Regions from separate parts of the Homo sapiens genome. Here all the other regions are linked to region 1. The links come from fine-mapping of genetic effects on gene expression. A gene starts in region 1. Each other region holds a variant in brackets. All regions are shown on one strand. Distances are between the middles of the regions.

What was found. PIP is the estimated chance that this variant, and not a neighbour inherited with it, causes the effect.
Region 2: its variant is fine-mapped to the expression of CPM in whole blood (TOPMed, PIP above 0.99).
Region 3: its variant is fine-mapped to the expression of CPM in lung (TOPMed, PIP above 0.99).
Region 4: its variant is fine-mapped to the expression of CPM in lung (GTEx, PIP 0.97).
Region 5: its variant is fine-mapped to the expression of CPM in whole blood (TOPMed, PIP above 0.99).
Region 6: its variant is fine-mapped to the expression of CPM in whole blood (TOPMed, PIP 0.98).

The regions. Positions count from the first base shown.
Region 1 is chr12:68,930,820-68,935,814 of GRCh38, forward strand. It overlaps CPM (carboxypeptidase M), which reads right to left and starts at 2,352. Exons shown (of 9, transcript NM_198320.5): 1 at 2,323-2,352; 2 at 1,859-2,021. The coding sequence starts at 2,018. RefSeq lists silencers at 2,232-2,591, 2,622-2,731.
Region 2 is chr12:68,853,421-68,858,415 of GRCh38, forward strand. It overlaps CPM (carboxypeptidase M), which reads right to left. Exons shown (of 9, transcript NM_198320.5): 9 at 1-3,259. The coding sequence ends at 3,017. Among named protein-coding and RNA genes, the nearest start is that of MDM2, 48 kb to the left of the region's middle. The variant C/T (reference allele first, on the strand shown) is at 2,569.
Region 3 is chr12:69,127,719-69,132,713 of GRCh38, forward strand. No RefSeq gene overlaps it. Among named protein-coding and RNA genes, the nearest start is that of CPSF6, 110 kb to the right of the region's middle. The variant C/G (reference allele first, on the strand shown) is at 2,527.
Region 4 is chr12:69,121,694-69,126,688 of GRCh38, forward strand. No RefSeq gene overlaps it. Among named protein-coding and RNA genes, the nearest start is that of CPSF6, 120 kb to the right of the region's middle. The variant C/T (reference allele first, on the strand shown) is at 2,497.
Region 5 is chr12:68,955,096-68,960,090 of GRCh38, forward strand. It overlaps a transcript of CPM not described here and the pseudogene PRELID2P1. Among named protein-coding and RNA genes, the nearest start is that of CPM, 24 kb to the left of the region's middle. The variant G/T (reference allele first, on the strand shown) is at 2,515.
Region 6 is chr12:69,004,523-69,009,517 of GRCh38, forward strand. TODL (transcript overexpressed in dedifferentiated liposarcoma) reads left to right here and starts at 3,137. Exons shown (of 3, transcript XR_001749099.2): 1 at 3,137-3,214. RefSeq lists an enhancer at 2,921-3,614. The variant CCTT/C (reference allele first, on the strand shown) is at 3,153.

The sequences.
Region 1 (4,995 bases):
AAGCACATTGTGTTTGAAAATACAAAACCTTACCAAATCACTTAGTACTTAAAATTAACAACATCCTCATCATCTTGTGGTTGAAATGATGACTGAACAATAACTCAAGCTAGTTGTGTTCTATATATTTTTAATTAATATAATTAGTATTCCTAGATCTTTTTAAATTGCTCTACTCTAGCCCTAGGGAAAAATGATTTCAGAAGGCTGAATACGTATGCTGATTCAAGATATGATTTCTCACACACCCAACCTCTATAATTTTGGATTATAGAGCAATATAGAGTAATTCTGGCACCATCTCTTTGGCAATGCTGTTTAAAAACAAAGTTACTATTACACACAGCCCAGGATATTGACTTCGCATTGCACATAAATACATTTATATAATACTTTTTCTTTAATATAGAAGCCATAGCCTTGATTTTTTTGAAAAATGATGAAGAATATGGTAATTATGAGACTCTCAATTGACTCAAAAGTTCAGAGCTAAAATCAAGGTAGAGTTTGAACACACCTTACAAAAAGTTGAGATCCAAATTGCATAAAATTTATGAAACTTTTGATTTAAGGACTAAGTTTTCTGGTAACCTCTTTGGGAACATCAGGATAATAAAAGATGATTAAGTAATAATGGTATCTCGGCCGGGCACGGTGGCTCATACCTGTAATCCTAGCACTTTGGGAGGCCGAAGCAGGAGGATCACAAGGTCAGGAGTTTGAGACCAGCCTGGCCAATATGGTGAAACCCCATCTCTACTAAAAATACAAAAAAATTAGCCAGCTGTGGTGGCGCATTCCTGTAATCCCAGCTACTCGGGAGACTGAGGCAGGAGAATTGCTTGAACTCAGGAAGCCGGAGGTTGCAGTGAGCCGAGATCACGCCACTGCACTCCAGCCTGGGCAACAGAGCGAGACTCTGACCAAAAAAAAAAAAAAAAAAAAAAGAAAGAAAGAAAGAAAGAAAGAAAGATGAAATAACGATATCTGATCAAATTATTTGCCTTGGCCGGATGGGTGCCAGTCCTGGCTATAAAATTCACCATCTGGGAGACCTTGAACAAATTATTTAATTTATCTGATTCAAACTTGCTGTCTATAAAAATGAAAATAACTTTATGTAGTTTCTAACTTAGAACAATAAATTATTAATGATAAATATGAAAATGCTGGGAAGAGTTTCAATCACTACTAATATATATTCATTATCTAGCATTGTCTTCTTCAAATGGATACATTTTAAAAACAGCCTTTAATCATAGAACCACTTTTTTGCATAACTTTAAGCCATAGGGCTAATTATACACGACACAAATCTAACCAACAGAACTGTACTACTTAGATTAAAAGAAACTTGCAGAAATGATAGTTTTGCATAACTTTAAATAAAAGGCTAACTACAGATGACACAGAAATCTTACCAACAAAACTGCATTATTTCAGTTTAAAAGAGACATGAAGAAATGACATTAACAGTCCAAGTCATATATAAAGAAGCCCACACAAAGGGGAACTGAAACGGATAAACGGACTTACTTGGGAGTTTATCTTGAAAAGGAACTAAAACATACATCCCAAATAACCAATGTCTGCAAGATCCAAAAAGACAGAAGAACTCCAATAATGGAAAGGACTCAGTGACACTGAATTACAATGGACAAGTCCAGTAAAATTCAGTTCTTCCTACTATTCCTCCCAACAAAAGCAGAAAACAACCAACACGCACGGTACCGGTTGACTTGTTCTGTGCCACTCAGAGTAGGTGCGTGGAAGAGCAGACAGGAAGCTGGGGCATATTTAATGAATACTGAAAGGGAGGACTGAGGGTTTGGCAAAGTGTTCACGAGACGGACCCTACCTTTCACAGATTTCCCAATACTGTGTAAGTGAGTGACAGAACTGTAGTTTTGGGCAACAGTCTTCAAAAACGCTTCCATCCCTTCCTGGCGGTGGTAGTTGAAATCCAGCGCAGCTACCAAAGGCAGCAACAGCCCTAGCCAGAGGCACGGGAAGTCCATGTTCTAGAGATGAATAAAAATAAGAAGAACCTGAGAACACATGAGGGCAGGCGGGGGCATCACCAGCTACGTCTCGGTACTCCGGTCTCAGGGTCTCCCGACACTGACGCTCCCTGCCTCCTAAGGAGGCAAAAGCTGGAAGCAACACCTTCGGGAGTGAGCCGTGCAACCAGAGACCGGGAGCACGGGCAGCCTCGGTGCCCTCGACCCAGCCGCCCGCGCCTCCCTCTCCTCCTCCTCCTGGCGCCTCCGCCGTCCGGCAGCTGCCACAGCTGCGCCCGGCCCCGCGCACCCCCAGCCTCACCAGGTCCCAGGCGCGCACCTCTACCCACCCGCGGCCGCCCGGCGGGGCCGGGTGTTATAGCCCGGTCAGAGGGCGGGCGCGCCCGGGCCCCGCCCCCGGACGTCCCTCCGGCCCACTCCGGAGCCGCGCGGGTGCCTCCCGGGCGGGGCCTCAGCCGCCTTCGCACCTAGGAGAGACGGCGCCCGCGCGGTGCGCCCTTTCGTGGCGCGGCTGCTGGTGCCCGCGGCCGGGCGGCTGAGCTGGGCGGAGGGCTGCGGGCATGGAGTCGCCGCTCGCGGACAGTCTTTGCTGGAGCCCCAGGTCAGAAGTGTGTCCTCGCCTCGGCCACGGCTGTAGCCTGGGCAGCCACAGGGCGCTCCACCGAGGGACACTCTCTGTCGCAGACTGCAGCCGCTTGGGAGACGTTTAGGGCTCGGCGGGTTTCCTGCGGTTGGCGGTGCCGGGGCCCACCTGGAGCCGGGACGCATGCGGAGTCCTGAGTGCCCTGAGCCCCGCGCGGGCTCCTGCGGGACGGGCGGCGTCGGCCCCGGCAGGGCGAGCCAAGCTCCCAGCAGTGCCAAGCTGCCCAGCGAGGCTAAGCAATCACGGGGCTTCGAGAAAGAACGCGCGCGTGTGTGGAAGTTTTAAATGCCACGAAGTGCAGAGTGCAGGACATTTTCCAACAAGTTTACATAGTGGGTGGGATTTGTGTAAATTAGAATTGAATTTAAAACTGGAAGTCACATCGAAGAAGGCAGGACCACTGTTGTAAATCCGATGCTTCCTCCACCTGCACCTGAGTCTTAGGCCAATTACAGGTCTCTCGTCCTAAAACGTCCTAAAATGCTCCTTTCTGGAAGGATGGCATGGTCTCTGCACGAGAGAGAACGAAGGCTTCACTCAAACCTGAGAGGTGGTTTGTGGCACGGGCCAACCCCCTCTACCTCTCTAAAAGATTCATTCTCATTCATTCTCTCTCTCTCCCCTCCCCCTCTCCCCTTCCCTCTCTCCCCCTTTCTCCCACTCTCTCCCGGATTGTAAGTAACCGTGTCAGGGTATTGGGGGCCCGTGTCAAGGTCCGCAGAATATAAAAAGTTTGAAAACCACTGATTTGAGATAACATTCCACTTTTACAGACTAAAAATACGGATGCAAGCCCACGACTAATTGAATAGAATTTTTCTCGTGGAGGCCCAAGAAAGTGTATTTTTAGAGAGGACCTTGAATGAATCTAATGTGCCTTCAAGAGCTGAGAACCGTTAGATTCCCTGCCCCTTCTTTCTTACAGATATAGATACTTTTCCTAGAATTGCGCACTCAGGACTCCCTGAGACTTCCAGTGATTCTGCCGCAGCATAGAAGAGTGGTTTAAGAACTGAGGCGCTCTGCCCTTGCGATAGTTTGCTGAGAATGATGGTTTCCAGCTTCATCCATGTCCGTACAAAGGACATGAACTCATCCTTTTTTATGGCTGCATAGTATTCCGTGGTGTATATGTGCCACAGTTGTGCACATGTGCCCTAGAACTTAAAGTATATATAAAGAAAAAAAAAGAACTGAGGCGCTCACGGGATGAGTGCCAATTCTTGCTCTGACACTCAGTGGCTGTGTCGACTCTGTGCCTTATTTTCTGGTGTGTAAAGTGGAAGTCTTAATTGTACCTACCTAAATAAGGTTGGCAGGCACATTGTAAGAACTGTGCGAAGCGTTTATTACATAAATAAACCAGCTTAATTCGTAACTCTTTAAAGGGAATTTTCCAAGAGTTGGAATTTTTTTTTTAATTTTTTATTTCTTTCTTTATTTTTTGAGATGGAGTCTCAATTCTGTTGCCCAGTCTGGAGTGCAATGGCATGATCTCGGCTCACTGCAACCTCCTCTCAGGTTCAAGCAATTCTCCTGCCTCAGCCTACCGAGTAGCTCGGATTACAGGCACCTGCCACCAGGCCCGGCTAATTTTTGTATTTTTAGTAGAGACGGGGTTTCACCATGTTGGCCAGGCTGGTCTGGAACTCCCGACCTCGGGCGATCTGCCTGCCTCGGCCTCCCAGATCGCTGGGATTACAGGCGTGAGCCACCGTGCCTGGCCATCTTTTTTTTTTTCTTAAAGAGAAGTTGTTTTATTGTTTGTTTGTTTGTTTGTTTGTTTGTTTGTTTTGAGATACAGTCTCACTCTGTTGCCCAGGCTTGAGTGCAGTGGTGCAATCTCAGCTCACTGCAGCCTCTGCCTTCCAGGTTCAAGCGATTCTTGTGTTTCAGCCTCTAACGTACCTGGGATTACAGGCACGCATCGCCACACCTACGTAACTTTTGTATTTTTACACCACACATGCCTAACTTCTGCATTTTTAATAGAGACCAGGTTTCACCATGTTGGCCAGGCTAGTCTTGAACTCCTGGCCTCAAGTGATCCTTCTGCCTCAGCCTCCCAAAGTGCTGGGATTACATGAGTGAGCCACCTTGCCTGGCCTAAGAGTTGGAAGTCTTAGTATGACATTGTAGAGTCTTTGAGTAGGTTTTTTTTTTTTTAATTGTGCAGTAGTCACTATGCTAAATGTTATTTCCACTGGAAGGGTTGAAGACGTTTCCCTTTCATTGTTGTTCATTGACTAAGAGGTCTGAGGAGGGGGACTGGAGCTTGAGAAGATTAAATTTAGGCAAAGTTACTCTAGGAATGGGAAAGGGAACTGGGTG
Region 2 (4,995 bases), 77 kb before region 1:
TGCTGCTGCACAAATTACCAGATTTCATAATTGGTTTAAATAAGCCTCCAATTTGTTTATATTTATTAACATGTATGATTTTGTGCATGTAGAATAAGCTTGGCATAGAAATGGCCTAAATGCTCCTGTAGCTCTTCATTCCTTTGTCGTTCTCACTCTCCATGCCAGTATGTCTCATTTCTAGATCCCATAGAACTTTCAATTGAAAGTAATAACCAAGGCAACTCACTTTCCATGAGTAATACACCACACTTCTAGAAATCAGCCTATATTACTGTCACACTGGGGATTAAGTAAAAAAAAGAGAAAGAAGGATGGGAAGGGGAGGGAAGGGGAGGGGAGCGGAGGAAAGAAGAAAAGGAAGGGAAGGGGAGGGAAAGGGAGAGAAGGGGAGGAGAGGGAAAGGAGGGAGGAAGGTAGGAAGAGGAGAAGGAAGGAAGAAAGGAAAGAAATCTGCTCACCAGAGTTGCTATTTTTTTTTTCTTTTCTGTTTAGTGCTTTACCCCTTAATTCTTATAGGTAACGGTCTAATACAGGGTAACTCTCATAGTGGAGAACTTGAGAAGCATTAGTACTTCAAATTGAGTCCTAATGGTAAAATTTTTTTCTGATAAAAAAAGGTACTTTGTAGTGCTGTTAGGAGGTAACATAATACCTTTACTACCAATCTTAGGATCAATTCAAGGTTCAGTAAAAGGAATGTATCTGGAATTCTTGATTATAGACATGAAAACACTCTTCTGTCAGCGTTCATAGTGAGCTGGGAGGTTGCCTACGCATTAAGACCTAGCTTCATAAAATGACTCAAAGCCCTAGGCAGTTTCTGGGAAGGACTGGGAGTAGCAGTCTCCTGGCACCCCTTGTTCATTCATTCATTCAGTACCTACTATGTGCTAGGCTTTGAGGATATAACAATGAATTTTTCAAACAAATTAAATAGACCTTGGCCTCAAAGAGCTCACATTCTACTAGAGAAGGCACACATGGAGAAGATTATAATACAATGTTGTAAATCCAATAGTAGAGATAACCAGTTTATTTTGGGGAGCAAAGAGAAAGGGTCCCTAACCCCAGACTGCCTGCGAAGAGGTGAAATGGAATTGAATGGGATTATGGTCAGCCAAGGCTTCCTAGTGGAGCTGCTACCTGAACTGAGTTTTAAGAGGGGTAGGAAAGAAAAAATGTAGTGGGTCATAATGGCATTCCAGATACAGGGGACACAAACAGCTCTGTGTTTATGAACTACAACCAGTTGTTGACTTTTGTTTCAAGTGGCTCCCCTTCCCCAGTGCTGTGTGGACGATGGACTGAAGAGGAGAAGGCTGGGAGCAAGGGACCAGTAAGCTGTTGCAGCAGTGCAGGTGAGATATGAGGCCTCAACTCTGCAGTGTTGACAACCATAGAGAGCAGAGAGCAGAATTCATCAATATTTATCAGCACCAATTTTTTTTTTTAAGACAGAGTCTCACTTCTTCACCCAGGCTGGAGTACAATGGCGCAATCCCGGCTCACTGCAACCTCTGCCTCCCAGGTTCAAGCGATTCTCCTGCCTCAGCCTCCCCAGTAGCTGGGATTACAGGCATGCACCACCACGCCCGACTAATTTTTTTTTTTTTTTTAGTAGAGATGGGGTTTCACCATGTTGGCCAGGCTGGTCTTGAGCTCCTGACCTCAAGTGATCCGCCCGCCTTGGCCTCCCAAAATGCTGGGATTACAGGCATGAGCCACCATGCCTGGCCAACACCAACCTTTAGTTACTTGCTGAATACACAGGATTAAGGAGGAAGAGAAAGTATCAAGGATGACTCCCAGGTTCCTAGCTTGGTGGTCCCAGTAATTGAGAGAGAGAATGCAGCAGGAAGAGCAGCTCTAGGGGGAACAGGATGAGTATCTCCACATGATGGGTTGGAGGTACCTGTGAGTCACATCCAGGTGGATGTGTCCTGTGGGCAGTGGGACGCGAGTCTGAAGCTCAGGCAAGAGGCTAGAGTTACATCTTTGGAGTCATCAGCCTAATGGAGGACTGTGGCATCCAGGTGCCAAAAGCTAGGGAAACGGCTCTGGAGAGAGAGGGGCTTTCTTAATTGACCTGTATGCTTTGAAGCTCTATAGAGACACAATCTTATCCCTTCAGGCCTGTATTTTCTTGGGCCACTAAGATGTGGTTACATATTTTCTCTCACATCTCCTAGAACGTTTGCAAAACAATTCCCAGTCCTATGATCATTTCTCCCTTCTTCTGAGAACTAATTATATATGGCACTTAATATCTATTCACATGTAGCACTCATGGTGAGGTGTTTTTTTTGTTTGTTTGTTTTTGTTTTTTTTTTTTTGAGACAGAGTCTTACTCTGTTGCCCAAGCTGGAGTACAATGGCACTATCTCGGCTCACTGCAAACTCCGCCTCTAGGGTTCAAGCGATTCTCCTGTCTCAGCCTCCTGAAAGGCTGCGATTACAGGTGCCCGCCACCACACCCCGCTAATATTTAGTAGAGACAGGGTTTCACCATGTTGGTCAGGCTGGTTTTGAACTCCTAACCTCAGGGTGATCCGCCCACCTTGGCCT[C/T]CCAAAGTGCTGGGATTACAAGGTGTGAGCCACTGCTCCTGGCCTTATGGTGAAGTCTTGTATGTAGAAGATCAATAAATGTTCATCTTCATTGCTTATATTCATCCGGTTCTCTGTATACAAAATGATCTTCTTTTTGCAGGCATTTTTTTGCTTCTCAAGTTTTAACTTCTTACACATTTTAAGACTACTTCAAGATTAATTTGAGTGTAAATGAGCAGTACTTGTTAGGTAAGTGTCTTCCATTCACCGTCAAGACTGAATCATTCTTTTCATTATCACCACATATTGCTTATTGTGGAATTTGGAAACATCCATTTCTCTTCTTCAGGAAGATCGTGGAGTTTCTCCAGTCAAGGTCCCACTAGAGTGAGTTAGGGTTGCAGTAACCTGGAGTGAGCAATCCCTGATTCCAGGTGGTGATGTGGGTTGAGTTTCACATTTTACTTTATTTGAAGAATATGTGCAAAAGACTCACTAAAAATAAGAACAAACTAGGCTTTGTTGCAGCTGAGTGGTCTGGCAAATTTCTGTATAGAGGAATCATTGGGCATGAAGGATTTGATACTGGGATAGAATCCAATTGCCCTTGGAATGGAAGTAGAATATCCTTTTTAAGAGCACTGAAGTTCTGGGATTTCTCCGGAATAATCACCTTTGTGATGTGTGGATCATGTCCAGGGACTGTAACCTGAGAAGAAACAAGAGACAATTATATGAGTGACTTAAGATGGTTCGTGGTGCCCACACTGAAAACACTGATATCCATCACTAAAATGCAGCCTTTGTGCAATGCATGTAACAATCTACCAGACCTCTGGGCCAGCAACAGATTTGGTCCTGCAGGCTGAGTTATCCAATGCCTGTTGACAGAGACCAGCGTTGTGAATGCTGTTGCCAAGAATTACAAAATGAAATAAGGACAGATGGGTACCTCATCTGGCAATGTAAGTCAAGAGAAGGAAGCAGCAGATGTTTCTGCCACCATCCTTTTCGTGGGGCAGAAGGGTAAAGAGATAACTCTTTCCCTTTGTCCCAAGTGTGTATTTAACATCCTCCTTGGATATCAAGATTATTTTCAAGTAGAATTATTTTCTCAACTTACTAATTTCTTTTCAGCTGACCTACAAGCCTATTGCTTCTTTTAAAAGCTTTTCTTTCTTTCTTTTCTTTTTTCTTTTTTTTTTTTTGAGATAGAGTCTTGCTCTGTCACCCAGCCTGGAGTACAGTGGCTCAATCTTGGCTCATTGCAACCTCCGCCTCCCGGGTTCAAGCGATTCTCCTACCTCAGCCTCCCAAGTAGCTGGGATTACAGGTGCATACCACCATGCCCAGGTAATTTTTTGTATTTTTAGTAGAGACAGGGTTTCACCACATTGGCCAGGCTGGTCTTGAACTCCTGACCTCAAGTGATCCACCTGCCTCTCAGCCTCCCAAAGTGCTGAGATTACAGTCATGAGCCACCACATCCACCCTCCTTTAAAAGCTTTGATTTTACCTGGTTTTGTTCATATCAGCCTGAATCTTTGGTTAGGCTTTCTTTTTTTTTTTAGTGGAGGAAATGATCAGGACAAGACAAATGCTAAACTAACTACAGGCAATGTCTACTGAGAAATGCTTTTATTATATATGGTGGAGAAGGGAAAAAATGGGGAATGACATTTACATAACCACTCATTGGTATGTATTTTACACATTCATTTCAATGTCCAGAGTCTTACCTTCAAATATTATCCTAGAACTAATATCTAGGGTCAATGTGTACTGTGTTAGTCTAACTAATGGGAAATGAACAATTCATAACTTTATTCTAAAGGTGTGGCTTATTTATGAGGTTGCATATAAGTTTAGATTCACTACAGGGAAAATCATATTTTTAAATAGAATAGAAATATCACAGTAAATAGGAGGAAAATAAAGGGCCTTTTTAGACAAAGATTCACAGTGAGTTGAGATTTTTCAAGCTCTATCCATTTTCTCGGCAGGAGTAGAAATTCCTAAAAGGATTAGCAATTGATAAGCCTCACATCTAGGCACCTTGGGGAGAACCCATGGAGCATGGAGGCTCTGAATTCTATAGTTTTATAAACTAAAAACCATGTTTTTTCCATGATGTCCTCAAGATGAAATAATAAAATACCAACTCAGTTTTCACTACAGAAGAGATGACTACCTTCTCCCAGGATTAGCTCTATATAGAATGACTGCTATGGTTGGCATAAGCCCCACTAAGCAAAATAGAAGAATCCTGAATTTCTCAGAGAAATTCACATCAAAGAGAAAGAGGCAAAATCTGGCCAACTATATCAATACTTATTCATTTAGTTCTTTCACATAAATCCACTCAGGCTCAAATTAGTCCATGCCTTCCTGTCTTCGGATAAAATGACTCAGAAATATATATTTTATGGAATTAAAGACTGAAAT
Region 3 (4,995 bases), 200 kb after region 1:
ATTATTGCCAATGTCAGTTTCTTTCTTTTTTTTTATTTGAGACAGAGTTTTACTCTTGTCACCCAGGCTGGAGTGTAGTGGTGTGATCTCGGCTCACTGCAACCTCTGCCTCTTGGGTTCAAGCGATTCTTCTGCCTCAGTCTCCCAAGTAGCTGGGATTACAGGCATGGGCCACCATACCCGGCTAGTTTTGTATTTTTAGTAGAGACAGGGTGTCACCGTGTTGGCCATGCTGGTCTCGAACTCCCGACCTCAGGTAATCCACCCACCTCAGCCTCCCAAAGTGCTGGGATTCCAGGCATGAGCCACTGCACCAATGTCAGTTTCTTAGTTTTGGCAAATGTACCACATTAATGTGAGATGTTAACATAGAGAAAACTGGGTAAGGGGTAAGTGGTAAAACTCTCTACTATCTTTGCAACTTTTCTGTAAATCAAAAATTACTCTGAAATTAAAAGTTTATTAAGGAAGAAACCCTATGTGGTAGGCACCAGGACAGTTTTACACCAGAAGACTGTAGCTTAAAGAGGTTAATTTGCCTATAGTATCACAGCTACCGAAGGATTTATCCTAATCTACCACTAGCACAATTTAAACAGGATTGCATGTGGTTCATTTAATCTCTTAGCACCTTTTGTGGTATCCTATGGGCCATTATAACCTGATGACTGCTGGGAGGGCCTGGCATTGCCACATAGCTCTTTTCCTGACCCAATAGCAGCACCTTATAGTATTTATTGAACATGCTTTATTTTATTTGATTGTTAAAACAACCCTCCAAAGTATTATTACATATTATATACAAGGAAACTAAGCCTTAAAGAGGTTCAGGGATGGGCACTGTGGCTCAAGCCTGTAATCCCAGCACTTTGGGAGGCTGAAGTGGGTGGATCACGAGGTCAAGAGATCGACAGCATCTTGGCCAACATGGTGAAACCCCTTCTGTACTAAAAATACAAAAATTAGCTGGGCGTGGTGGTGCGTGCCTGTAGTCCTAGCTACTCAGGAGGCTGAGGCAGGAGAATCACTTGAACCCAGGAAGCAGAGGATGCAGTGAGCAGAGATCACACCACTGTACTCTAGCCTGGCAACAGAGCAAGACTCCATCTCAAAAAAAAAAAAAAAAAGTTCAGTAACTTGCCCAATGTCATTCAGTAACTAATTGGAGTTTGAATGTGAACTCAAGTCTATGTAAAACCAAAGCATTGGCATAACCACTCCTAATTCACACTCTGTCCTGCCTCCATGCTGCTCATGGTTTTATCGGTCTTAACTATAGCAATAATGAATATTAATTATAGATGAGAAATGACTGTTACAGTGAATGGAAACTTTCTTAAGCACTTTTTGTAAAATAAGGCTGTCATCAGGAAACAATAATCAAAGCAACTATTCCTAGGGTCTTTGAGTTATACTTTCTCACTTTTCTAACAGAGCTGAGTTTTTCACTGCTTTTCTTCCTGCAGAGTCAATATTGCTGTTGTGCAGTGAGCTGGAGGCTGTTCTCTCTATGCATCATAAATACCAACTGTCATCAAAGAATATACACTATCTGCATGTGTGTTACTGAAATGAGCAAAAAGCATACAACTTCATTTCCAAGTTCCAGGATGATTTTATAAAATACACAGTTGAAACAAAATCTCTTAACTTTAGTAAGCGTTTTTGGAGGGAAAATTCCTTGTAGTTCCACATTATGTTTTAAACTCAAGGACTTAAGACCTCATATAGGCTTAAGATCTTTTTCTGTTTCTTTTGTCAACACATTTGTGTTCCCTCTTTTATTAATTATTTGTAAGCAAAATGAGGACAATAGAAGGCAACTTCTTTTGCTTTCCAAATTGTAATTTCTGAGGAAACTGTTGAAGAAAACTGCCCTTTTTTCATGTAACAAAAAATGTTTAGGTTGTGGCCATGCTATTTCTTTGCCGCTGAAGTTAAGGAAAGCCTAGTGCTCACTTTCTCCAGCTACCAGATGAGACAAACCACAGTTATTTCTTGGTCAAGAGACCTGAAAGGTTAAAATGTGGTCATCCGAGCCAGTAAAGAGAACACAGCAGTAACCTTTGACCTTCTCTCCTGCAACTCTAATTGCTTGTCCCAATGCTGGGCCAATGCTCAGCCCGTAGAGACATCTTCCATTGGGCCCAGAGACATCTTCCATTCAGAAGCTCAACTGGGGCTGAGGTTAATGAAGCCAGTCCACTCGCCCACCAGGTAAGCAACAAAAGTAGAGGCAGTAATATATCCTGGGAGCTCTCAGTGAAGCATCAGGCCTTATACTGAAATACTTTGTATTTTTTTCTTTGAGAAAAGCCTATTTTTCAGTAATAGTTCCGATTGATAACAACAGTAAAGCTAGAAGCAAGTAATGTGTATAAAATACCTACAAATGTACCAGGAATTGTACTACATGGTTTTACTCAAATGATCTAATTTAATCTTGAGTCAGGTGCTACTACTTATCTGCATGTTATAGGTGAAGAAATACAAGGCAATGATTTTGAAACAGTCTTCCTTAGAGCT[C/G]CCCCTGGGGAAAGGCAGGAAAATGAGGGCCAGACTCCAGATCCCCACTCCTAACTTAAGCAGAGCAGTTATGCTTTTATCTATTTTGCTTATTAGGCATTAATGGAAACTCATTTTAAAAAAGAGATCCATGCTGTAATGGTTAGTTTTATGTATCAATTTGGCTAGGCAATAATACCTAGTTATTTAATCAAACACTAATCTAGGTGTTGCTGGGAGGATATTTTGTACATGTGATTAACATGTACAGCAGCTGGCATGGTGACATGCCTGTAGTCCCAGCTACTCAGGAAGCTGAGGCAGGAGGATCGCCTGAGCCCAGGAGTTTCAGCCCAGCCTGGGTAATGTAGTGAGACCCCTGTCTCTAAAAAAATTAAAAAAAGATCATTATTTTTAAAAGTCACAACTAGTAGATTTTAGTAAAGGAGATTATTCTTCAAAATGTGGGTATTTTAGTATCATCCAATCAGTTGAAAGGCCTTATGAGCAAAAACTGATTTCCAGAGAGGAAGAAATTGTCTTAAGGCTGCAACATTGGCTAGGCGCCGTGGCTCACGCCTGTAATCCCAGCACTTTGGGAGGCCAAGGCGGACAGATCATGAGGTCAAGAGATTGAGACTATCCTGGCCAACATGGTGAAAACCCGTCTCTACTAAAAATACAAAAATTAGCTGGGCATGGTGGCACGTGCCTGTAGTCCCAGCTACTCGGGAGGCTACTTGCTTGAACCCGGGAGGCGGAGGTTGCAGTGAGCCAAGATCGTGCCACTGCACTCCAGCCTGGCAACAGAGCAAGACTCGGTCTCAAAAAAAGAAAAAAAAAAAAGACTGCAACATTAACTCCTGCCTGAGTTTCCAGCCTGTCCTAGAGACTTTGAACTTGCCAACCCCTACAATCACATGAGCCAATTCCTTAAAATATCCATCTATCTTTATCCTACTGGTTCTGTTTCTCTAAATAACCCTGACTGACACATGGTTTAAACAAAAGCTCTATAGCCTTGCTACTCAATCTGTGGTCTGCAGGGCAGCAGCATCCACATCAGCAGGGAGCTTATTAGCAATGCAGAATGTCAGGCCCCACCCTAGACATACTCAATTAAAAACTGCATTTTAACAAGATCCCCAGGTGATCCTTAAGCACATTAAGTTAGAGGAGGGCTTAATACAACATAAAGAAATTAGACCACAACGATTTTACCAAAATAAAATCCCCAAACATTTCAACCTTGAGGGAGACTCTGAAACTTCTGAAAAAGAAAATAAAAGTTCCACCTTGCCCCCTTTGAACTAGACAGCCCACTAACTGCCTTGTGTCAATGTCATCAACCGCGTGAACTTGTTCTGAAGCCTCCAGGCCACCAAAGCAGAGATATCATAAGCCCAGAAATAGACCTATTTGCTTCTATCAGAGATAGCTTGTCAGCTCCTACTGTATTGATATCCATTTCTCATCCTTCCTCGTGGAAATCAAACATTACTTTATTCTTCTTCATTAGTAGGAACATAAATCGAAGACAGTGAAAAGTGTTGACTAATTGATATCCAGTTCCAAAAGGACTTATAAAATAACTGTCTAAGACAAAGGCATCATCCAGGCTCAACCTTGGATAAAATCCATAAGATTGAATAGAATTTCATAATTTCTTCTCTTTGACTAAAATCCCTCCTGCTTCATATCCAGCTTTGCACTCAACCACCATGTGCTGCTGAAGAAAAGGGTGAGATAATTTCTTTAACCGTTACTGCTCAGTCCATTCATCAGCCCAGGGATAAAACACACCTGACAAGAGCCTCATGTCATTCTCTGTAGCTGAGATTTACAGTACCAGCAGGTGAGTAAGTCACCACCTGCACTGGATGCTATAACTCAGAATTATTTAAATCCTCCTGTGCTTCTGCTAGAATCATTTTCATAATTCATTTTATATACTATTTTTTTTTTAGAAAGGGTCTCACTCTCTTGCCTAGGCTGGTGTACAGTGACGTGATTATGTTTCACTACAGCCTCAACCTCTTGGGTTCAAGCAAGCCTTCCACCTCAGCCTCCCAAGTAGCTGGGACTATAGGCATGCACCACCATACCTGGCTGATTTTTAAATTTTTTGCAGAGATGGGGTCTTGCTTTGTTGCCCAGGCTGGTCTCATACTCCTGGGCTCAAGCAATCCTCCTGCCTCAGCCTCCTGAAGTGCTAGGATTACAGGCGTGAGCCACCATGCCTAGTCCCGTGTTATAGTCTAAATAGACTTGTGGGAAACCATTTCATATGCCAAGAGTCAAAATGAATGACTAGGCTGGGCATGGTGGCTCACGCCTGTAATCCCAGCACTTTGGGAGGCTGAGGCAGGCAGATCACCTGAGGTCAGGAGTTCAAGACCAGCCTGGCCAATATGGTGAAACCCCATCTCTACTAAAAATACAAAATTAGCCGGGCATGGTGGTGCATGCTTGTAATCCCAGCTTCTTGGG
Region 4 (4,995 bases), 190 kb after region 1:
GCTTTTATCAGCAGTAGCACAAATATACACTAGGGGCTAGAGCATGGAGAGGAAAGGCAATGAAACAAGTTTGGAAATGTAAAGCAACCTTTTGTTTATTAATCCTTAGAGAGAATGGTGAAAGGGCTACTAGATTTGTGAGCTAAATTGGTTAGAAAATAATCAAATAGGCCGGGTGCGGTGGCTCACACCTGTAATCCCAGCACTTTGGGAGGCCAAGGTGGGTAGATCACCTGAGGTTGGGAGTTCAAGACCAGCCTGGCCAACATGGTGAAACCCCATCTCTACTAAAAATACAAAATTAGCCAGGTGTGGTGGCTTGTGCCTGTAATCCCAGCTACTCGGGAGGCTGAGGCAGGAGAATCACTTGAACCAGGAAGGCAGAGGTTGCAGTGAGCTGAGATTGCACCATTGCACTCTAGCCTGGACAAAAACAGCGAAACTCCATCTCAAAAAAAAGAAAAGACAGAAAAGAAAACAATCAAATACTTTCAGCCAGGCACAGTGGCTCACAACTGTAATCACAGTATTTTGTGAGGCCCAGGCAGGTGGATTGCTTGAGCCCAGAAGTTTAAGACCAGCCTAAGTAACATGGTGAAACCCCATCTCTACAAAAAAATACAAAAAATTAGCTGGGCATGGTGGCAGACACCTGTAGTCCCAGATACTCAGGAGACTGAGGTAGGAGAATCACCTGAGCCCACGAAATCAAGGCTGCAGTGAGCCATGATTACGCCACTGTACTCCAACCTGGGTGACAGAGCAAGATTCTGTCTCAAAAAAATAAAATACTTTCAACTTTCTCCTGCTGGACATTCCTCCGCCCTTTGCTAAATTCTAAAATATGTGCATATGAAAAAACAATATGATATATAGTACAAATCAATTAAAGTGCTCCTGAAGAAAAAGACAGATAAGCATATAGATTAGACATGTGGATTATAGAAGTATCAGTCCACATTTTATGGGATCTTCAATTACATAAAAAAGTGCCTAAAATTTGTAAGTAGACAGACAAGATAATGAAGTAGCAAAATACAGAACTCACGGTGTTTAATCAATGCTCACAGTGTTGCAAAATACCGTATTGTTATGTGAACAGCTCACTGAGGAGAAGGTACATAAATGGAGCTCAATGTCACAGTATATTAAAATTTAGTGCCAACCTGATCTGACACATATTCAATGGTGCATCATTATGGTGGTGCTTGAAAATTAAGAGTAAATGGGAAGTGGTTCACTTAAGTGATTTTAATTAGCACCTTACACAGTCTAATCAAGAATGTCTAGGTTTTGCTGGGAAAGGAGTGAAGTGAAACATGGCTGAGCAGCCTGCTGCGCTGGGACCCTTCTGAGAAGACAGTGAGGTCCAGGACATGGTGTCCACAGCAATAGATAGTTTCCTTGGTCCAGCAGAGCCATCCAGGGGCCTTTGGACAGCGTGGACACTGATGTCTGGGTTTTACTTGGCTGATCCCTCTGCCTGGAATACTTCCACCCCTCCACCATGTCGGGGTAAGTCAGTCTCATACTTCAGATTTCAGCTAAGGTATCATCTAGATGCATTTACTCATTTAATCCTCAGGACAGTGCCTCATGAGGAAGAAGCACTGAAATTGTAGATCAGAATGGAACGTCTAACACATATAGCCCAATTTCTTCCTCCCTTCTATAGCTGCCTCCAGTTCTCAGCTCAGGATGGAAACTTGGTGAACAGTGGGATCAGCCAGAGCGGGCAAGGCTGAGACACAGATGGAGTGTGTTATCTGGGGATTTGTGTGACCAGTGGTGGTCCAAGATGGCAGACTGTGGGCTGGAGAGGTCCAGGTAGGAGGACATCCAGACAGGTGGACAGAGCAGTGCTGGAGAGTCAGGGAGAGTGGCACAAGTTTAGACCCAGGCAGGCTGCACCCGAAAGGCCTCCCTCAAGACTCTCTATGAAGACACCAGACAGGAACACCCAGCAGGGTTAGAGAGTGAGCCATCTAAGTCAGTACCAGGGGAACTGGAGTCCCAAGTTAGAAATCAAAGTAGGGATCCAGTTGTTGGTCAGTGGGGTACAAGATCAGTGCAAAGCCTTAAGCAAGACTGACCGGAAGCTACCCAAGCTGGTCTGAAAATGTAGAGCTCCTTGATCCTCCCTTGACAAAGGAGACCCTCCTGCACTTTAGACAGGGTTAAGGAGGCACCTGCATGAGAACTGGAGTGCAACAAAGGCAATCATTGCTTCTATGGTTTGTTTGTCCAACTCCTTGTTCTTGTCACTGTGTTGAAGGATAGACTTAATTTCCATATCACAGAGATGCACTAAATGTGTTTGACTTTCAACTTAAAATAACGTTCCTTTTCTTTCTCTTTTATCTAGATCTTAGACCTTGCACTAAGCTAATAATTTACTATGGGAGAGGTCCTTGAGACTCAACACTCAGGAAATAAGGTACTCTGGGGATGTTGCCTAGATACATTGAGTTTGTTTGGCAGGGTTTTTGTTTATTC[C/T]GCCTTTGAATTTTGCCTTCAGTACATTGCATTCTCTGCTTTAGAGGAGACTAGATTTGTAGAAATCTCCAGAAATAGGCAAAATCATGAGTATTTTCTCCAACCTAAAATGGTTTGGCCTATTTCATCCCTCTTTAATATTTTGTTTAAGTTTTGCTACCTGTTTTATTTTATGAAAGTGGGGTACAGGGTGTGGGTTTTAATGGTAACGAAGCACAGGTCAAACAACAGCGGAACGTGACCATCGTGACCTAAAAATAGGTCAAAGTCACGTCTCAGGTAGCTGCACAACAAAGCAAATGCCGTCCACCTTTTTTTGGTGTGATTAAACCTAAGTTAAAGTGAAACAATAATGCAAGAATTTGTTTTTTAAAAAAACTAGGAAAAAGGAAGATTGGTTCTTGGAAATAAACCAAGGGATATGGGAGGTGCCATTCTTATTCATTTTTGAAGTGACCTCAGGCCTTGAATGAGGGAGCCCCATGTAACTAGTTTTGGGGGCGTTTAGGGATAGAAATGGGTGTTGTAAATATGCTCCTACTCATGACCCTCCCTACCCCACAACACAGGGACATCACTTTCTTCTTTTAAGCCCACATCTGAGTGCTTACCCTGTGCCGGACCCTGGTCTAGGAACCTCATAGTAACATGAAACATCCTCTCTACAACCCTGTTATGTAGGCAAATTTTATAGATGAGGAAATCAAAGCAGAGACAAGTCAGCTTGCCCAAGGTCACACAGAGAAGCAAGCCACCGATCTAGGAATCAACCTCAGACCCTTTGGCTTCAGAGCCAGAGTGCTTAACTGCATTTAATACTGTTCCCATTTTAAAAGGGATATAGAAAAGGGTCAGAGACTGCGAAACAAAACTCAGAGCAGAGACTGGGGGAAATTAGGGAAAGGGAGGGAATGCTTTCCCCTAATGTAGCCTCCCATTGGCAAATGGGGAAAATCAAGCAGCCACCCCTCCAAACGGCACTCCCAATTCCCCTCTGCTTGTTCTCTTTGCCACAGCGCCTACCATCCGCACGCTGTGCAATGTACTTGTTTGTCATGCTTATCATATTGCCTGTGTCTGCCACTAAGACGTAGGCACATAAGAACACGCATCTTCATCTGTTTTGTTCCCTGAGGTACCCAAGTTTCTAGAACTGTGCCTGGCCCGTGGTAGGCACTCAGGATTGTTTAAATAAATAATACCTGCCACCTAATGAGATAGCTGAAAAAATTAAAATCTTCAAATTAATAACACAAAACAATGTTCAAAACAGTGTTTCATGAATGGGTAAAGTATCAGGAGGCGAAGAAGACCCTTAAGGTATAGCCAAGTACAATGAGATTGTTATCGCTATGTTTCACCTCCAAAGAATTGCTCCCAGTGTAGGAGCAGCCCTGAAATCGAGGTGACACCCTTCTTCCCCGGGGAGATTAGCATATAAATAAGACAAATAAGACTAGACAAAAAGCCACCTAGAAATGAGACAGCAGGAAGCGGGAAGATGGAGGTTGTTGGTTTCGATTTTCTTTTTCTTCCCAGGTTTATTGTTTCACCCTTTCTCTCCGCTTTTTAAAATGTCCCTTTTGATCCACTTGGTTAAATAGCATTCTCAGACACTTCATTCTAGTGGAGTCTTTAATTGCATAATTTTAGAAGGTTGTGCCAGGATTGAAGTTAGACTGCACGGTGGGTTAACTGTGAATCATATTCTGTGTGGGCTGAAAAAGGGGTCTCCACGCGAAATCTGACACGAATAGTGATCAGAAGACAGTGAAGTAAGCCCAGAGAGCCCAAGCTCTGGTCCTTCAGCAGGAGCTCAGCTCCTCCCCTGCTGTTGCTGTCCTTCTTCATCCTTCTGCTGTTTGTGTGAACCATGACCCTCCCTGCAAGGCCTTGCCAGGCGCTGTCTCCACTTCTCCACTTCTTCACGTGGTCCTACCTCAGTGTGGGGCTGACATGGAAGCACAGAATTTTGCAGGATGTTGCATGAGGGATGCTACTGAAGGTTCTTTCTGGTGAGTTCCGGAGATCTGCCCAGGAACTGTGCTCACAATGACACTTTGAGCAACCTCAAGACATACAGTGCCTCACACAGGCGTTGCCATTGCAGATAAATGGCTCCAAGGAGATTCTGAATTACTCCAAAGGTGAATGAGGGAGACGTGGTTTCACACTATTTGTATTAATATACTAATAGCAAAAAGTAAAGGGAACTTGCTAGGTGCCAAGAATGGAATAAGCATTTGCATCAATTTAATCCTCTCAACAACCTTATGAGGAAAAGTGCTATTATTATAATACCTTTCATTATAGATGAGAAAAACTGAGAAGTTAAAAGTGTGTCCAGGGTCACATAGCTAGAAAACAGTAACCACAAGACTAGGACCTAGGCCACTGGCTGCAGAAGCACTGCTCTCAGTCATAACTCAGCTTTGCTCCTCTGTGTTAAAAATGTGCATTGATAATGAAAATACCTGTCCAATAGGGCCCTGAGTGCTT
Region 5 (4,995 bases), 24 kb after region 1:
TCCGGGCCAGTAGCACAAGCTGAGCACAGCCTGCTGGGCCGAGTGGGCAGAACGAGCCCAGGAGGCCCGAGTAAAACTCAGGCAAAGGTGCCGCCAGCCACAGAGGCTTCCAGCTGGAAAAGTGACACCCCTAAGGATCCCAGGACACTGACACCTACTCGCTTAGTGATTGTGGATATAATTTTAAATCTTTACGAAGCTCATTTAAAAAAATTTGTAAAACAAAGTACTCAGCATGCTGCCTGGTGCGTAGTAGAAGTCCAGTCAATGGAAGCTTAGAAATGCCAGGACCACAGAACCGTGGGTGTCACAGCCCTGGGTTCAGGAGCCCCCAGGTCTGTGCTCCCCAAAGGGCCGCAGCTCTTCTCTTCTTCTTGTTGCTTACAACATGGTGAGTGTGTGTGGGGGTGGGGGGGGCATGTTTCAGCCCTGTTTAATTTATACCTCTTTTAGTCCTGCCACTTGGTGGGTCCTGAGTTCTTGTGCTGCATCCAGAAAGAATGAGGTACTCAAACAACTGGAGGATGAGCAAGGGAGAGAGGAGCTTCACTGAGCAGCAGAACAGTTCTTGAGGAGGCCCAAAGTGGGTAGCTCCTATCCGCAGACAGGTTGTCCTGAGGTCTGTGCAGCCCTCAGCTGAGAGGAGACCCAGAGCAGGTAGCTCCTATCCTCAGGCAGGTCATCCCATGTCTGCCTGAGTCTGGCTGAGTCTGGGGTTTATACAGGCTTTAGAGGGGAGAAAGTGTGTATGGATTGGTCCATGGGTGGCCATGGGTGTCCAAGAAAAAGCACCATAAGTTCTCATTCCAGTCTGCAGAACTGAAAGCCGAGCCCCCAGGCTTCAGGCCGTCCCCAGCTTGGAGGTGGGGCTTCACTGAGTACCTGCCCCTTTCCACCCAGGAGCCTGTCTGCCTCCTGCCACCATCAACCTGCCCTCCACGGCACCCACAGTGCCCAGGCTGTTCCTGCTAAGGGGCTCCTGCAGGCCTACACTGCTTTCCATGCTCGTCAGTGCCCAAAGTGTGGAGGGGTCCTAGGTGGCAGGGTGCTGGCATGTCAGTGCCTCAGAGCATGCACACTTGGCCAAGTCATGTCAGCACCCAGGTTTGGCCACAGTTTGCTCCAAAATCGGAGCAGGTGCCAGGAGCAGGGAGAGGTTAGACAGTGGGAGCAGTCACCTCTGAGTCTGCAGGGGCAGGGGGAATTCCTGGGCCCCAAGAGTGCAGGGATGCCAGGGTCTGTAGCCAGGGCTGGGCAGCTGCAGCTGCACCCAGGAGGGCAGGGATCCCATCCCGCCAACTTGGAAGGGTCTGTTCCCGGCTCCCACTGGCTCCATGGAGCCTGCTGCCCCAGCCACGCCTCCCCCACTACAGCTGGCATCATGGCAGCAGCCACTCCACACAGGCCACTGCTGCCATCACCAGCACTTGGATTCAAACCTAGGTCTGTCTGACTCCAAAACCTGGACTCCTTGCACAAAATTACCTTGTTTAATCATCACAACCCATTGGCCGAAGGACCTGTGCTTGATTATCCCCATTTGCCCAGTAAAAAACAGACAGGTTAATGATTTGCTCCACACATAGAACAAGTTATCAGGAGCCAAGGTTAGAACCTTCCTTCCCACTCTTCCGTGTTTTTTCAGAGCACCAAATCACAGTTCACATGTTACGTTGTAAAAGCTCTATTAATGGCAGTTCCATTTTACTTATGGATAGACATAAAATGTGATTTCTGAGAATCTTAAACATTGCGATAAATATGGCTTAGCTTCAACACAGGTCTGGTAAATTCCTGTTTGTTCCAGTTCACCTATGAATCAGGTACTGTTTCTACCCCTTTATTGGTTCCAGAATCCTCTCACAAGTCCTATGAACAATGGTGCTAATAACATAAGGGCACAAACACCCTCCTCGGCCTTTATCCTGTCTTTGGCTGCCCTGACGCCATCACCAGACAATCAGCAGACCACCCCGAGGAAGGGTAGACATCATCTTATCTGGGTTTTATTCCTTTATTTGTAAAATCGTAGAGATTGTATCATAAAAATCCAGCAAGAAGGTCTCATGTCCTTGAATCCCACTATTCAAAGCAGGTTCCCAGAGGAGAGCATCATTTTGTGTCCTGGCAAGAAGGTCTCTTCTTGAAGCTGCTGACATGGTATCCTCAAACCTGTATTCCAGAAATGGTGTCTGTGATGTGCTGTGACCAAGCAGTGATTCTCAGAAAAAAAAAAAAAAAGTGGTCATGGACACAGCTCTCTGGTGATTCTTTATTCAGCTAAGGGGGCACCATACTGTTCCTTTAGTAGCATCTCCATGATTCAAATTCCCTTCTGAGCTCCCTGTCTTAAGAATGTGCTGGCAAAAGTTTCCAAAATGCAGTTGAGAAATACAGCTCCAGTGACTGAAATCTTGCCTTTTTCAATGAGTTCTGTCCAATTTGGATTTTCCACACTTTCCCAGAAGACTGACTTTTCCTTCCAAAATGCATACTGTGTCCACATAAGGCAAA[G/T]ACTCCATATAATCATGTTTCTTTCTTGAGGATTGAGCCATGACTCCTCTTTTAATTGGATGTTAGATACTAAAAAGGGGATTATTATTATTATTATTATACTTTAAGTTCTAGGGTACATGTGCACAATGTGCAGGTTTGTTACATAGGTATATATGTGCCATGTTGGTTTGCTGCACCCATCAACTCATCATTTACATTAGGTATTTCTCCTAATGCTGTCCCTCCCCCAGCCACCCACCCCCTGACAGGCCCCAGTGTGTGATGTTCCCCGCCCTGTGTCCAAGTGTTCTCATTGTTCAGTTCCCACCTATGAGTGAGAACATGTGGTGTTTGGTTTTCTGTCCTTGTGATAGTTTGCTGAGAATGATAGTTTCCAGCTTCATCCATGTCCCTGCAAAGGACAAAAACTCATCCTTTTTTATGGCTGCAAAGTATTCCATGGTATACATGTGCCACATTTTCTTAATCCAGTCTATTATTGATGGACATTTGGGTTGGTTCCAAGTCTTTGCTATTGTGAATAGTGCCGCAATAAACATATGTGTGCATGTGTCTTTATAGTAGCATGATTTATAATCCTTTGGATATATACCCAGTAATGGGATGGCTGGGTCAAATGGTACTTCTAGTTCTAGATCCTTGAGGAATTGCCACACTGTCTTTCACAATGGTTGAACTAATTTACACTCCCACCAACAGTATAAAAGCATTCCTATTTCTTCACATCCTCTCCAGCTTCTGTTGTTTCCTGACTTAAAAAGGGGATTTTTAAATGCCTTTTTTAATTTTCCCCTCAAACCCCTTCCACTCAGTCCCCTCCACCCCCAGCTTTTCTGTCGCAGGAAATGAAACCACCTTACACTGTTACTCAAACCAAAACCCCAGGAGTCTTTGACTCTCCACCCACCCCAACCAATGCAATACATCAGGAAGTTCTGTTAACTCCATCACCAAGATACCTCCTAATGCTGTTTGTGACACCTCCACTGCTGCCATCTTGGTCCGAGATACCATCGTTTCTCTCCTAATCCCCTCCCTGCTTCCTCTCTGGCACCTGTAGTCTAGTTATAGCTCAAATGCCAGAGGGGTGTTTTAAAACATAATCAGAACATGTTCTTTTCACTCCAGGGGCTTCTAGTCACACTCAGAATCAAACCCAAAGCCTCTTCCTTCCTGGCCTCTGAGACGCTATATGAACTATCCCCGCCTGCCTCTCATCCCTTGGTAACACTATGTTATAGCCACACGTGCCCTGAACACACAGATCTGCCTCTCACCCAAGGGCCTTTGCACAAGCTCTGCCCTGTGCCAGACACATTCTTCTCCTAAGTCGTCCCATGTCTGGTTCCTTCTTATTCGGGTTTCAACTTCAATGCCATCCTCTTTGAGAGACCTTTGACCACTTAGATGTAGCCCCCAGTTCCTGCACCCCAGCTGTCATTTCCTTGCACATCTCTGTCTTATCTTCGTCATACCATTTACTATTATTACATATTTTCTCCTTATTTATACATTCCTGCCACCTCAGAATGTGAATGCCATGAGAATAGGGTCCTGGTCATCCCGTTCAGTGTTGCATCCCAGCACCCACAGCAGTCCCTGGCACAGAGTAAGTCTTCAGGATATGTTTGATGATTAAATGAATGAATGAATATCTTTTAGAAAGAGCCAGTCCTCTCCATAGACTGCAACCTAAATGATGAGACTCAGAAGTGTTTCAAAATCCCCATTGCCTAATAAGACATTTCAACTTTTAGATTAATTCCAGTGGCCACTGCCTTAAAATATCATTGTTATTGTAAAAAAAAAAATTACCTAAAGGAGAACAGAGGTCTTGTACTACGCTGTTAATTCTTCAAAACTTAAGACTGAGTTAGTTTTCAAATCATTTTTATCTTAGAAATCAAAGGCAGTTGGACCAAGGACAAATACATTATAATGAAAGTGTGAAAGAGAGAATATGAAAAGTTGGCTGCATGGGGGCATTGCCCAGTCAAGACAGATGTGGGTGAAACATCATGGGCAAGGAGGGGGTTTTCCCACGAGAGGCCAAAATTGGAGAGAGGGTGAAGAGAGGGTTTGCTGGGTGCTTCTCACATGCTAGCATCGTGTTAGTTGCCTTAGGAATAAGGAAGAAGTGAAGCACAAACTCTGGCCCTCAGAACCTTCTGGGAAACCTGATGCTATGGTAATTTCTGGTGAGGATGATCATGTTTAATAAACAAGGCACAAACATTTCAGCTCTGCTATATCCCCAGGCGTCTCTCCCAAAATCAGTTTACTTCTCTACTTTACAAGAAAAATCGGTTAGCTTCAGGGTTTATAAAACTCACTAAAACATACAAATGTAAAACCAAATGTTACCCTGCTGATTTGAAAGGGATTCTGGCATGACTTCTCAGATAAAGATACAAATACATTCTTTGTTCATTTCCATGAACGGCCTTTTTATGGCTTTTGAGACCTAGTCTAAGTCAG
Region 6 (4,995 bases), 74 kb after region 1:
TTAAATTAGTGGGCTTTATTTATTTTTATTTATTTATTTATTTATTTATTTGAGATGGAGTCTTGCTCTGTTGCCCAGGCTGGAGGGCAGTGGCGCAATCTAGGCTCACTGCAACTTCCGCCACCTGGTTCAAGTGATTCTCCTGCCTCAGCCTCCCTGTAGCTGGGATTACAAGTGCACGCCAGCACGCCCAGCTAATTTTTGTATTTTTAGTAGAGATGGGGTTTCACCATGTTGGCCAGGCTGATTTGGAACTCCTGACCTCAAGTGATCTGCCTGCCTCGGCCTCCCAAAGTGCTGGGATTACAGGCGTGAAACACCACACCCAACTGATGTTAGTATGTTTTTTATGAAGTAAGAGTCAGTATATATTTGATATGTGCCAGGTGCCCTTTGTCCTCTCATAAAACTTACTACCATCCAAGCTGGAGAGGCACAGGGCTCATGTTGACCCATGAAAGCAGATTGTTATATTTTCAAAAATTTTGCAAGCTCTTATTAAACACTGTTCCAGTCCTTACAACTATACAAAAATGATAGCTAGCATTGTTGAAAACAACATGGCTGAAGCTGAAAGAGGTTTCAATTTAGGGACTAGAATTCGTACAAGGGTGGGAAATAGTTTAACAGCAGATGACATCAGATCAAATGGCAATACTTTTATGGAGAAAAGAGTTAGCAGATAGGGATGCAGCTCCATTTGTCAAATCATGGTTGAACGGCAGCCACAGTTGCAGTCACAGACACAAGAGTTTGGCAAAAATCAACAAAGGCATTCAGTGAGATTCAACTGACCACATGGAATTTACAATAAAGGGTATTGTATAGTTGATTATTACTTGGAAGTTGTGTGCTACATATATTTACTAACATTCCTTTTCTCCCACAGCCAGTTGTTAAACACTTACCCCACTAGGGAGACAGACCATTAACAAATACACGGATAATAAATACGGTAAATTCAGGTGGTAGTAAGAGTTGTGAAGGAATTTGAGCAGAGTGATGTGGCCGAGAGTGACTGATGGGTGGGAAAGTCTTATGACACGGGCAGGGTTGTGAATGGGGAGAGTTAGCCAGCACATGAGGATCAGGGAGGTTATAGGTAGAAGGAAGAGCAAGCCCAAAGGCCATAAGGGAGGAAAAAATTTGCACGTTGCTATCATTGCTATTGTTAGCAGAATCTGCACTTGAGACCCCAGATCCAAGGATTCCACTCATCCCTTTCTTTCCCAGTCTGTAGCTGGGCAGTTGCTCAGGGTCACGATCTATTTGGCCCTGAAAGAAACACCTGGGGTTCCTGACTTCCTCCACAACGTTTCAGACACTATCAGAGTTCTGTATGGTTTAGATTATAAATGTTCTATGTATTCCTTTCTTGTTTCTCTTCTTTGGTGGAATTTGAAGCCATGGAACCTATATTTTTCCATTTTCCTTGTTCCTAAACTATCTTTCTTACCCAGGTCTAAACTAGATTCCATTGGATGTCTGAGGTCCACCTCCAAATTTTCTCCCATGGTAGAGTTGTGTAACCCAAAAATAAAATTCTAAGCCCTCCAACCCTCTGAATGGACTCCTCCTCTCGGCAAGGGCATCCCAAAGTTAACCTGAAAAAACAAGTTCAGGCCATTATGGAAAGTGGGAGCCAGACATGCCTCATTATACCCTCTTCCTTTTTGGAATTACTGACAGAACAGACTCTTTAAGTCTGATAAGAAACATTTACAAGCTCTCTGAAGCCTGCTACCTGGAGGCTTCATCTGCATGATAAATCTTTGGTGTCCACAACCCCTTATCATAACCCAGACATTCCTTCCGTCCTTTCTATTGATAATTACTCTTTCAACTAATTGCCCAGAAAATCTTTAAATCCTCCTATGACCTGGAAGCAGCCACCCCATCTCCAGGTGCTTCCAGTTGTCCCACCTTTCTAGACTGAATGAATGTACATTTTACATGGGATGATTGATGTCTTGCCTTATGTCTCCCTAAAATGTATAAAACCAAGTTGTGGCTCAACCACCTTGGGCACATCAGGACCTCCTGCGTCAGGAGGTCACAGGAGGCTGTATCATGGGTGCATCCTTAACCTTAGCCAAAAAAATCTCTAAGTTCTTTGAGATCTGTCGCAGATACTTTTGGTTTACGGTTGTGATTCCTCCAAGTGCCTCATTGCTAGGCTCATTTAATGATGTGGTTGGGGCTAGCAATTCTTTTTTTCAGTTTGGCTTTGGAAATTTACAGCTCCTAAAGTCAAACCAAAGTTTTGGGGCAGGTGTTTTGATTTTATATACCTTCAGTAATTGCACTTACTTGGTCCTTGTTGGTTCCTGAAATTCAGATCCTGCCTAGGCTCTGGGGAAATGCTCAAAGGATGTTTCTTTGTCATATAACAACAACACAGTCAACTCTTAAATGTCATGACTGTAATTCATTCCTTAATGATGGTGCAAATGAGTTAAATCTTTCATATTGTAGACTTTTAACTTTGCAAACATCCTTTAAAAAGCCATTACAGGGATATGCTCACTCCAACAGAGAAGTGCTTTGGCTGCAGCATGAAATAGCTAATTCATAATTTAAAGTATGATGCCTCTCCCTTTTCCCCTTTTTAGATAGTTTATAAAAAGGGAAACTTTCTCCTGTGTGTGCTGAGGGGCTGGATTTTTCACTGGCTGTTTGCCTTCCGAGCACTTTCTTCATGGCCAGCACTTATGAGCAAGCCTGGTGTGTTTAACTTAGCTGGTGAAATGATCAACGGTAAACGTCAGTTGCTGACATTAGAGCCAGCTGCTTGAAGTGTCAGCGCAGCTGCTTTGTGAGATGAGAACAAGATCTTACTGCTGCTCCTTGTTCCGTGGCGAGGCAACAAGAAAATGCCCATTATGAACCAAGGGGCTCATAACACATTCATTTTTACTCCTTTTACCACCAGCTCAGATTTCTATAGAGTGAAACCTAAGTTCAGAAATCTGGAAGCAAATGCAAAAAAAATGTACCCCTGCTTCTGAAACTGTGCTCTATTACTCACGGATTTCAGGATCTGCTTTTTCTTTTTTTTGATTGTATGACTCACATAGATTTTAAGGAACCACCCATGAGGGCCCCTATGCATTTGGATAATTAAGATTCTTCCTGGGTGAAGAGCAACAGTC[CCTT/C]CTTTCTGAATGACTGAAGATTTAAGAGCTCTGCATGCCCTGAACTACACTGTCCTGCGGTGAGGCTTTGTTTTCCCTTGTTCTGGTCCTGCTGGACCTAGAGATTGGGGTGCGAAGGTGCTTAGGGTGCAACAAAGGAAAGAATTGAGCAGGCCTGGACAATGTCACCTCACCAAAGCGGGGGCAGAAGGCAGCAGAGGAAAGGTGCTTAGTGCAAGCCTAAGGATCTTGTAAGCCTTTGTAGCCCGGACTCTGACCAGCCTGTTGTTTCTTTAACATCCTGCATTCAAGTATTTGATGCAAATATGATTGCCTCTAGGCAAGAGAATATAAATATTTGCCGAATGTATAATTGAATGGAAAAAATAGCTGTGTAAGTGAGGACAGCGATGATCTCTTCTTGCCTTCTTCTCTTTGTCCTGCTCCCTCTCCTTTCTTCCTTGGTTTTCAAAGAATTCAAAACAAAACAAAACAAAACAAAACAAAATGTAGAAACCTGTTTTGTCCTGGGAGTGTAGTTTCACCAGCTCCCTGCTGTTCCAGTCTATCCAAGCTGTCAATCAAAGCAAACAACAGAAGTTGGCTAGCATTCAAAGGAAAAATGTGTTTTATTACACATTTTGACATATGTTGGATGATTTAGTAAGATCATGGTGCCTTGTCTCATTTTCGAAGACTTCCTGAGTTCATTTTTTTTTCTTTTTTTCATAACTTTCATTGAACTTTTAATGGCCTTTTTGTATTTTTCTCATGGAGGATGCTTCATTAATAGAGGGACTATGTCCAGTAGGAAAATATAAAGTGGTTTTTTATTTTTAGAGAAAACAGGTACTAATATGAAATGGATGAAGTGCCTTCCAAGCCCATGGTTTCCAGGCTGTGTACCAAGGTGCCCTGGGGTGCCACTGGATATTTTAGAATTGTAAGGAAAGCACAGTGATACCTGACACCCATTCAGGTACCACACAAACTATTAGCTCACGGTAGTTGACAGCGTCACCATTAGATTGTGCAACATTTCAACATTTCTTTTGATTATGTCATATTACTTGTGAAGCTGGGTCTACTGTGCCTATCCTGTGGCACTACGTGCAGAAACATGAAACAGGAAATGAGGGTGGTGGTGTCCAGTCTAATTCCAAGGCTTGAGAAGTGAGAAAAGAGGCTGGGCATGGAGGCTTACTCCAGTAATCCTAGCATTTTGGGAGATCGTGGCAGGAAGATTGCTTGAACCTGGGAATCTGGGACCAGCCTGGGAAACACAGAGGAAGACCTTGTCTCTACAAAAATAAAAATAAAAATTAGCTGAGTGTAGTGGTGTACAGTGGTAGTCCCGGCTACTCTGGAGGCTGAGGTGGGAGGATGGCTTGAGCCCAGGAGTTGGAGGCTGCAGTGGGCTATAATCATGCCACTGCATTTCAGCAGAGCAAGACCCTGTTTCAAAACAAAACAAAGAAATGAGAGAGAGAGAAAAAGAGAGAGAGAAAGAGAGAGGAAAGAAGAAGATAAAGAAGCAGAAGGAGAAGAAGAAGAAGAGGAAGAAGAAGAAGAATAAGAAGCAGCAGCAGCTAAGAGAAGAGAAGAGGCGAGAAGAACTTTTATCTGAGGAATCCAAATCCTTTTAAATTACCAAGCCCAGAGAGACATTAAAATCAAACAGCAATCACATTCTATCGCCTCCTTTGAGCTACATATTCATCTCTTGAAATTGCTTGCTATTGCTACAAGTATCTATAAATTAACCTAATAATGTTGCATCAGACAATACAACCCATACCCTATAGCTGAACAATGTATAGCCTATCACTAATCAATGTTATTTCTGTAAACTAATGAGAAT